2 separate regions of the Homo sapiens genome follow, and region 2 is linked to region 1. The links come from fine-mapping of genetic effects on gene expression. A gene starts in region 1. The other region holds a variant in brackets. All regions are shown on one strand. Distances are from middle to middle.

Region 1 (5,378 bases):
CCATCACAATGTTGTAGAGCAATTACCTTTTTAAATATAAATTTAGTGTAGCCTAAGTGTACGGTGTTTATAAAGCCTACACTAGTATACACAATGTCCTAGACCCTCACATTTACTCGCCACTCACTCCACTCACCCGAGCAACTTCTAGACCTGCAAACTCCATTCATGGTAAGTGCCCTATACAGTTGTATTTTTTCTTTTTTTACCATTTATACTGTATTTTTGCTGTACCTTTTCTACATTTAGATACATAAGTACTCACCATTGTGTTACAGTTGCCTACAGTGTTGTTTTTTTTTTTTTGAGATGGAGTCTTGCTGTGTTGCCCAGGCTGGAGTGCAGTGGCATGATCTCTGCTCACTGCAAACTTTACCTCCCAGATTCAAGTGATTCTCCTGCTTCAGCCTCCTGAGTAGCTGGAACTACACGTGTATGCCATCAAGCCCAGCTAATTTTGGGGTTTTTAGTAAAAACAGGGTTTCACCATGTTAGCCAGGCTGGTCTTGAAGGCCAGCCTTGGCCTCCCAAAGTGCAGGGATTTACAGGCGTGAGCCACAGTGCCTGGCCAATTGCCTTCAGTATTCTGTTACAGTACCATGCTGTACAGGTTTGTAGCCTAGGAGCAATAGGCTATACCATATAGCCTAGGTGGGTAGTAGGCTACACCATCTAGGTTTGTATAAGTACATTCTCTGATATTCGTGCAATGATGAAATCGCCTAACGATGCATTTCTCAGAACATATTCCCATCATTAAGAGATGCATGACTGTATATATTTGCATGTGTTTTTAAGTTACTGGAAGAATATACAAAAATATTAATAGTGCTTGTAACAGTGAATGGTATAGAAAGAAGGAAGGAAGGAGTGGGAGGATTCTGTTTTTTATTTCATACACTTCTACAGTGTTTGAATTATTTTTATTGAATATGTTACTTTCATTATTTTTAAAAACATCTTCTTCCCACCTTCTCATCTTGTCTATTTCAGCCTAGCCAACTAGGTTTTCTCAGGACTGAGGTTATTTATTCCATATTAACTCTGTCTCAAGCTCATATGCATCTCCCACGATTATTTTTCCCAAAACACTTTAGGTTTAAGAATGACCTTTCCTAGGTCTTTAGCTTATGATTAACCAAATGAAACCATCACTAGATGGACTCCCTAATTCAGGTGTTGAATTACAAAAATGAATTTTCAGGGGGAAAAAAATGCTAACTCAATTATGTTAGTTAAAATATCAGTAAAATTAGCAATGCCACAGTGTCATGAAGCAGAAGGTCAAAGACCCACACACCCTTTACTGGGCGCCATGGTGGGACTTAACTGGGGCAGTTCCGGTTCTGCCATTAGGACCATGAGCACTCCAATCTCAGTGAAATTGTATAAGACACTGCCATTATCCCCGGATCATTGCCACGATAGACCCAAACAACTCCAGTCTATCGTGTCAATGTGTATTTGGGGAGTCTTTAACACACGGATCATTGGCGAGCTGCACCATAAAAGCCCTGTAGGAGCCGTGGCCGTGTGTGGAATCAATGCACACTCGGGGACTTCCCCACGCCCGGATCATTTGCAGCGCATCGTGTCAATGCATACTCCGGGAGCCCCTACTCCGAAGCCTGTGAGTGCTGAGGAACAGTGTACACCAAAAATACTTATGGAATAGTTGTTACAGTGCGTACACAGTATTCACTTTTCTAAATGGCATGTCAGCAAGTTTAGTGTGCCACAAATAACTCCTAAAAGGCACAAAACACTCCTAGAGGCCCACCTTCACACATGAATGGTTGGTCCATGGAATTGTGGCATGGCTGTGGGGGAGTGTAAGTTTTTCTTTACAGTGAACAAAGGGAAAAGAAAGAGACATCTGCTATTCAGTGTTGTCAGGGTTTTCAGCATAATCCCAAACACCTCCTAATTATTTTCCTGGGCATTTGATCCCTAAGATACAAGGACCTTCCCTCCATCCCTGCCCTGTTCCAAAGTACCTGTAGAGCAAGCTGAGAGGGCAGAGTTAGAGGATGGGTGGGGTTGGGTCTTAAGTGCGATCCCACAGAGATATAATGTGAACCACATGTGTAAATTTAAATGTTCTTTGTGGCCACATTTTTAAAAAAAGATTTAATTCATGATACTTTATTTCACCCCATATACCCAAAATATTATCATTTCAATATGCAATCAATGTTTTTAAATGATGAATGAGCCAGTTCACATTCTTTTTTCCATACAGTCTTCTTTACAATGGGGTGTGTATTTCCCACTTGGAGAACATCCTGGTCTGGCCTGGCCACACTGCAAGCCCTCGGCAGCCTCTTGTGGTCAGTGGCTGCCCCAGTGAGCAGCACAGCTACAGAGGTTCAGGAAAACCAACCCCAGGAGCGTGGATGTTCACTGCCTTCCTTCAACCACTCCAGGCAGGTGCGTCCACCTTTCCTCCTCATTGCCTCACCAGGGCTGCAACTGCCGAACAGCCTTTTCTCGGCAGCCTGACAGAATAGCTGTGTGTTGGGTTTCTGCAATCATAAAAAATGACCACAAATATGCATTCGGAAAGAGGAACGAAAACTCCTCTAGGCCCAAACGGTAATGGCAGTACTAGGTCATCTTTCTTGGAGACGGAGGTGAAGGGAGGGCAAGGGGCCCCTGGGGAAGGAAAGAGGAGGCGGGCGTGGCGTCGAGCGCGAGGGCGGCGGCCTAGCTGCACCCGCGAACTTCCCCACACCTGCGACCAGCTCACCTCGCGGCGTGAGGGATCCCTGGCAGTCGGACGCGGCAGGGTGGCTGGTTTCTGGGGCTGAGTCTGGCCCGACACAAAAGAGGAGGGAAAGGAGAAGGAGACGGAAACAAAGGCGCGGGGGAGGACGAGGAGGCGCGCGCGGTCGCGGGGCAAAGCGGCGATGCGGTGCGGGCGCGCGCAGCCTGGGGCTCCCGGGACCAGCGGGCGGGAGCAGGCGGAGCGGGCAGGGCGATTTGAATATCAGGCTCTGCCACACTCGGGGCGCCGCTGACAACTTCATTACCTCCGCATATAAAAATGACTGCCGGGGAATGCAAATAGCTCGCCTGTCTCAGCCGCCTGCCCTCGTTCCGCCGCCGGCTGCAGGCGGAGGCCCCGGGAGCCGCGGCGGCCGGAGGCGCAGACGCGCCCTGTCCAACATAATGAACTGCCCGGCCGCGGCTCCGCCCACCCCCCAGCCGCCGAGCCGGGCCGGGAGGGGGAGCCGGCCCGGTGCTGGAGGAGGAAGGGGTGGGCGGCCGGGCGCGGCTCAGAGGCCGCGCGTTGCTAGTCAGTGTCGGCGCAGGCCCTGCCTCTTGACTCTGTCATCCAATTACTGCCATGAAAATACCAGGAAACTAGAGTGCTCAGTGGGTTCCACTCGTGACCGCGAACTCTGACGGAAAAGCGGGACCCCCGGCCTCCGTCCCGTGCGCCCTGGTGGTTAAATTGGACGCCAGCATCCCGGCGCCCCGCTCTCGTCTCGCCTGCAAGCGGGCGGCGGGTGTGCTGCGCCCTGCTCCCCAGGCCTGCGGCCACCGGGACAAGGCTGCGTCGCTGTGCAGGACCCGCCTCCCGAACCCTGGGCCTTGCTGAGCTCCCCGTGTGGCCACCGAGGCAAGCCGCGTGCGGGAGGGAACGCAGGCTTCACGGCGCCTCTCTTCTTGCCCTGGCTTGCTCCCTGGCAAGAAGTCACCTCCCGCCTTCTGATAGCTCCCCCTGTCACATTTGGGCCCCTTGTGAACTTCTCGAGGAGAGGAGCTAGGTCACTTTTATTAATAGCAACAACGACAGTAGTAAACATATGCTGAGGACTATTCTACGCAAGGTACTATGCCAACTGCTTTACCTACATGTTTATCACAGCGATCTTATTGCACTCCTGGAAACCCAGGCTTAGCAAAGCCTTGAAAGGTTCCCAGCATAACCCAGCTAAGGTGGGAGGGAGCACAGGTGAGAACCCAGGCCCCTCTACACTCTCAATCACTCTGCAGTATTTTCCGGGTCCTTCTTACAGCTCACACAACTGTCCAGCACTCCTTTGTCCCCCGAACGCATCACCCCCAGCCATCTTAGGCCGGGCCAGCCCCCCGCCCCCACCCTCACCCCCTCCCTCACCCCCTCCCTCACCCCCTCCCTCACCCCCTCCCTCTCCTTGGCCCAGAAGTAAATCCTAAGTAGTCTAAATCCGTTATGACCAACCCCTTCCCTTGCCCAGGCACTGGCTTAGAAAAGAGCATGTGACCAGTCCTGGCCAAGGCCAAGCCAGGGGACATCTGTTGGGGTTTTCTGGGAAATGCTTCCTTGCCCTAAAAAAAGACACCTCTAGCGATTCCAGTTTCTTCTGTTGTAGAATGTATATCCACCACCTGGCAACCACGGAGGAGCCAGGGAACAAAGTTAGTCTTTGCAGAGATTTACAGGATTAAGTGAGCTAACTCCAGGGTTAAAGTTTAGGAGAATCATGTTTTAGTCCTATCTCTACCTGCGATGGAGTCATGCTGCCTCGTGTTTATTCAGGGACATATTTAAAGTTAACTCCTTTTTGAAACGAGACAAGATAAAAAGATGTAAACAAAGGAAAACTCCAGAAATTTGGTCTTGTCTCCATTAAAGAGTGTCTGTTTCTAGGCACTTCAGTGGAACCTCTCACTTCCAGCTTCTCTTCCTGGGCACTCACCTCTAACTCATTCAGCTTTTTTCCCTCAAAGTAGCTCTTTGCCTACACAGGCAAGGCATCTCTTCCCTCCAGGAACATCAGAACCCCCCTTCTAACCCTCCTGCACCCACACACCCAGGCGTCTGAGCTTGACTGCCTTTGAAATGTTTACTGGCCTTCAAGTAGTCTCTTTGAAGAATTTGCATCTAATTTTGAACTTAGGGAAAATCGGGCATAACCAGTCACTTACTAGTTTCCTTGGCAACTACTTTAAAACAGAATCTAAATTGGAATGAAAATGGATTTTTATGGTTTCACTAAAATCATACACACTTTTCATGAAAATATACCAAAAAAACTATAAAAAATATATACATACTATATGCTTTATTCGTTTATCTGGAATCAATACACAGTAACTAACTCAAATATCTCTGTTCCCCACTGCTGAGGAAAGGCACTCCACACTCCCTTAGCAAGACATTTAAGACCCTCCACAATCTGCACCTAACCCAGCTCCAGCCTTATTTGTCTACTACAGTACATCCCCAAATCATGCTATTGCATTTCCTCTCCCATGACATTCTCTAGAATGCCCTTGAACTTCATGTCCAACTGTTCAAATATCACCGATCTTTCCAAGTCCAGATTAAATATCACCTCTTCCAAGAAGCTTTTCCCATTCCTCACATATAATGACACAAATTGAGT
Region 2 (5,378 bases), 59 kb before region 1:
GCTAAAGGTTTAAATCTCAGAGAAACAACAGCCCCTCTTTATGGAGTTCTTAGGGACACCTTCTGGAGCCCCCAAGTACTTACAACAACCATGATTACCCATCTTTTTCAGTTTTCTCCACATATGCGTAACTAGGGAGAAGCTAGAATATCTCTTTTCTGTGCAGTTAGGCTGGGAACAGAAACCAGAGATGTCTCTAACAGTGACTGATGCAAAGATGATGATCTCACTAGAGAAGCAGGGCCTTCCCTCTCTTGCTTCTCCTTGGCTTCGTATGCCAGTAATTGCCCAGTGTCCATGAAAAATTGCAGCTAAATCCCAGGCTGAGAGCTCAAAATGGACTTTGGACATTTCTCTTCCTGGCAGACTTCTGTGGAAAGAGTTGAAGGATTGCTGGCAGTGAGAATGTCTCCATGAAAAGTCACCTGGTGGAGGTCAGGGGCGAGGGCCCAGGGTGAATTTTACCTTAAACAGGACAGATCTGCAGATAAACAAAGGGAACCATGGTTTTGAGCCTGGTTAGTTTCTTAATCCTTTGTAAGCACATACATCATTCCCTGCAAATTCTTCCTCCAAACTGGAATTCACCGGAAGAAATCAACTTATAGAGGCAGCTGTTTCTTCTCTTGCATGTCTTCTGTTAAACAAAATAAACTGTACAACTAGCAAGATTGATGGTAATAATATTAAGTCCAAATAATCCAAATCGATTCCATCAAGACCTGGAAAGGTAAGCTGGGGATAACGTTACAGTAAAGGCATGGTTCTTGGGAGACGGTAAAAGTGTTACATTCTGTGCTACCTTTAACCTACAGAACATGTTCTTAGGAGTCAGGCCAACCTGCAATTAAACCCCAGCTTTGCTGTCAGGTCATTCTGAGTCAGGTTGGGCCATTTTCCAAATCATAAAGTAGGCTAAGGTTTGATGGAAGAATTCAATCAGAGAGCATGTATCAAGAGCCTGGGCGAGTGCTTGGCACAAAATGGGTGCCGAATAAGTGGTGGTTTCCAGCTCTCTTTCTTCCACTCTAAAACAAGCACAGCCTAGCCTGTGCATTTAACAAGTAGCTCCTGCCACAAACCCATGTCCTTAGATGATACAGCAAATCCATACCCTTGATGAATGGCTTTACAATGGGCTACCCTTGTGCTGTATATCCTAAATGGACAGAGAAGCATCTAAGAAATCTAAAAGAAGCAAACTACCTGTCTCCATAACTCCAGAGCAAATCACAGTACCAAGGGCTGATTTGATGGGAAATCCCCCATCCATCACCACAAGGAGCAAAGCTGTGCCTGGGTCAGCCCAATAAGTAGCCATCCAGGAAATCCAGGTGTGCAGGGGGTTGGGAGAGGAACCAAGAAGAAGAAGCTAGAGGTCATTGGCTTTTCCCTGACCTCCGGCTACATTTCAGGGCCACCTTTAGGATGCCCCAACCTCTCTTCACACCACAGAAAGAGGACTTTGAAGATGTAGGTGGTGTCCCAGCTCCAACAAGGCAGGTTGTTCAGGGACTAACCAAGAGAGGGAGGTTGGAAAGTACTGGGGGTGTCCCATTGCCTCCCTTGTCCTTTCTTGACAGCCCCAATACAATTATAGATCCCCTGAGACCAAATTGTTTCCTTTTTAAGCTGTCCTTACATTTGGAACTCCCATAAAGAAAGCAATAAAATGAGAGGTACCCTCACACTGCCATGTGCAGGTGTTCCAAGTCGCAGCGAGTCATTTGAATCCCCACTTAGGCCAGCAGATTCATTCCATCTGTGCTTACAATTCAGTTGAGATCAGAATTTTCTGATGCACAGCTTTCCTGAAATGTCTGTTTCTCCATTGTTTTTCACATTCCAAAGGAGAAAAATCATCATTTCCATCCACATTATTAGAAACAAAACTAGCCCCTTTTCTCCCCAGCCCATATTATTGCCTCATTACAAATATATTTTGTGCATCAACCTTAAAGGTTATGTTTCCCTCCTGCTTCCTCCTTTCATTATACAAGATTTCCAGTTATCCAGTATTTTGTTCTCATTAGAACACTGCTTGTCACATGTTTTCACCAGAGACATTCATCACCAAGGTCAAAGGGTGAATATCGTGATCTATTATGCTTAGAGGAATCTAATGAAAAGCCACATAATTATCCAATTTAAAGAGAAGCAAGTAAAAAAGAAGGGGAGCACTTGCTATAATTTAAATTGTTTTGTTTCCCTGAAGCAAAATTCAGCACCTGATTGACAGGACCTAATGATAATTCTTATTGATACGGTGATGTTAATTGTGGAGAGATATTTAATAAGTCCCATATTCTGGAGGTAAATGCGTGCTCTTAACCTGCACCTGAACCTGATTTTTGATGCAGCGTGGGGATGAGGTACAGATACAGATAAGTGAGCACAAGTGGATTTTCAGTCTTGTGTGGCAGAATGGAAATTGGAATCTTCAGAATCTATTAGGAGAACAATTCCACAGTTGCTCACACTTTTATAAATTATACTGTATATTACAGAAAGACACAAAGTCAGGGGAGTTGCAAGAAGAGGATATTGTCATGACTTTACAGAGAAGTTTTTAGGGTAGCATTTGGTGACGGTGGTGGTGGTGGTGTTTTCAACTAAAGACACACATCAAAGAACGTGATCTGTATTCATTTTTAAACAAAATGCACTAATGAAATCCACATCCTGAATCATCTCTCTGCCACCCCCAGGTAAAGCTGACCTTGCAGAAAATGAGGCCAACTCTGAAACATAGGTAGATTCTTGGAAGAAAATGACTTCTTACACCGTGAACAAAACCATTTGAGAAGGCCTTCATGGGTCTAAATTACAAAAGGAAGTGATCCGTGCGGGCTGAAAACATCAACTAGATCTGCATCCCATCATGAGATGGCTGGGAGGCAGGAAACAGCTGCTGGAGCTGTGGACAGGCCTGAGGTCATCTCTGACTTTCTGAGAGGCCATTTCAAAGCCACTATCTGGACAAGAAAC[G/A]ATGGGTGACCAGATCCAGCTCTGTGTGATTCAACTCTGTACACCAGTGAGCCATCCCTCACAGAGAAGCTGTGTGTTCCTGGTGTTTTTTATTACGTGCTAAATACCAGAACTTTAAAACTGCATCTGTGATTGTCATGAGACAATGCCATCATTTTGGAACTAATACTCACACCGCCATCTTTGTGCAAATAATACAAGGTTAAAAAAGAAATAAAGAAAGAAAGAAAAACAAAAGAAAAGAAAAGAAAAGAGAGCTGCTCTAAAGACAAATAGACTTGAAAAAAATGAGTCAACTTGGAAAAAAGAAGTAACCAAAGTGGCTTAAATCTGAGGGACGGCAAATTGTTCAAATTAATTTCTTTCAACTCCAAGTTAACTCAGTCTTCCATTTTTACTTATGAGAAAAGAATATTACATGGTGAGTATTCTAATATAACCTGCTTAATGTAATTATTCATGCCAAAGCATAATTAACTTCAAAATAATCAAGCCACAGATAGTTATAACCTGAGTCACAGTGGGTCACTGTTACTAGAAGAGAAAGCTCTCAATCTACAAATAGGAACATGAGAGTAAAAATGTAATCATTAAAGGGTGTCAAGGAAAACAAGAGTAATTTTTAATGAAGAAAATGTTTAAAATGTCCTAAACATTTCAAGATAAGATTCTTCTTGAGCTTAGTTAGCAGCTGGGGTCTGGCACATCGGGGGTGATCAGTAATGAGCAAAGACCAGACATTCTTTTTTGCTTCCTGAACTTGCTTCATTTTTTTTTTGCTTTTAATACACACACACATACATATATACATATCCTTGGAATAGTTCAGATATAAATTATATTGACTTTGAGCCATGTACTTACCTTCACTGAAAAAAAAAGTCAAGTTAATTGGAGACGACCAAATTGATCGCGGGTTATGATACCAATAGCAGCTGAAATTGCTGCTGTGATTTTCAACTGCCTAAGCCAAAGCATTACATCATGCACAGGAGATTATAATTTCTCTGAAGAACACTTCTGGTATCTCACCACCCGAAAAGTGATATGCCAGCAAATTGATGAGAGTTCAGAGAAAAGCAATAAAAATAATTAAGGATTGACTGATGGAAAAAGATGAAAAGAATTGAATGTGGGCTGCCTGACCCAAAAATGACCTGGGTGGTTATAGGAACATTACCCAGGTATCTGGAGGGTCAAGATTCCTGTCTGTCCACACAGCAAAACAATGCAATAATAAACAAAACAAAGCTGTTGGATAATTCACTCCATGATTTGCTCTGGAAGCTGGTGCTGCTCTGGGCCAAAAACCAGGGTCATGTCTACTCTGAGCAGTCACCAGCAGTCACTCTATGCTTCTGTGTGTCTCTTAGTGTGGGCTCAAGGCTGACATGGAGGCTGGGATGCCACTGATGTTCCCCTATTTCCACTCTGGTGCTGTCTAACCATACACTCATCCTATGCCAGACACCTGGGTCCTTGAAATGGCCTGCAACCCAAAAGAGAAAAGGTAAAGACTGGTTAACATCATGGTTGAGAGTCTGGGTTCAACTCTCAGCTCCAATACTTTCCAGCTGAGTGACCTTGGGAAAGTTACTCAACCTCTCTGAGATTCTGTTTCCTCACTTGTAAAATGGAGAGAGGAATAGTGCCTTCCTTCTAGGATTGTTGAATGAAATTTTTCACATAAAGCACTTCTCAGTGCCTGGTGTGTAGTAAGTGCTCAACAAATGGTCGCTACTGTTCTTATTTATTATAATTAGCAGCAAGGGCCAGGAACACCTGAAGGGGCAACAAAGATCTGACTCTCCTAGTAGGGGTTCCAGGCCCTAAGACATTCACCATGACTTGCCTGGCCAGTGCCTGAACAGATGTTCACTAATGTTATCGATGTGCCTCTCCACCCCCCACCACCCAAACATGCCAGTTTCCTTTATATCTATTATAGGCTGGGGGACCAAATGTCCTAATTTGCCCAGGACAGTCTTTATGCCTGTTGACCTAGGGCAATTACTAATAGGACCCTCTTTCTGTCAAATCAGTTATGATGATGAATGATATGGTCAGCCTAGTTATGAATCTCTCAACATCTTTTTTTCTAAACCTTTTCTATCCTGCATCATCTCTTGACAATGAGTTTCTTAAGTATATTGAAGTTACTGTGAGAAAGTATTTTTACCAGTCCTGACCTTACCGAGGTCAACAGTTTTGCCATCTCAGGAGCTGGTGAATGGATCCACGGTCACCCTAGTCCCATATTGTCCACACTTCACTGTGCTCAGACTAAAGAGCCTAGCCAGTTAGTCTGTCCCACACTGATAAGCCTTCTGCATTCCCACTTTCATTTTAGTTGATTTGCTCTGGAAAATGTCCAGTGCCACTGGATCTTC

Evidence for each region. PIP is the estimated chance that this variant, and not a neighbour inherited with it, causes the effect. A credible set is the group of variants that fine-mapping cannot tell apart.
Region 2: its variant is the best candidate, but not a certain one, in a credible set for the expression of SNX10-AS1 in prefrontal cortex (BrainSeq, PIP 0.71).

The regions. Positions count from the first base shown.
Region 1 is chr7:26,396,393-26,401,770 of GRCh38, reverse strand. SNX10-AS1 (SNX10 antisense RNA 1) reads left to right here and starts at 2,353. Exons shown (of 2, transcript NR_136272.1): 1 at 2,353-2,430. LINC02981 (long intergenic non-protein coding RNA 2981) reads right to left here and starts at 3,202. Exons shown (of 5, transcript NR_148502.1): 1 at 2,750-3,202. RefSeq lists silencers at 2,666-2,775, 2,866-3,325 and enhancers at 3,796-4,035, 3,110-4,066.
Region 2 is chr7:26,455,469-26,460,846 of GRCh38, reverse strand. All of the region lies in intron 1 of LINC02981 (long intergenic non-protein coding RNA 2981), which reads right to left. Among named protein-coding and RNA genes, the nearest start is that of SNX10-AS1, 59 kb to the right of the region's middle. The variant G/A (reference allele first, on the strand shown) is at 2,989.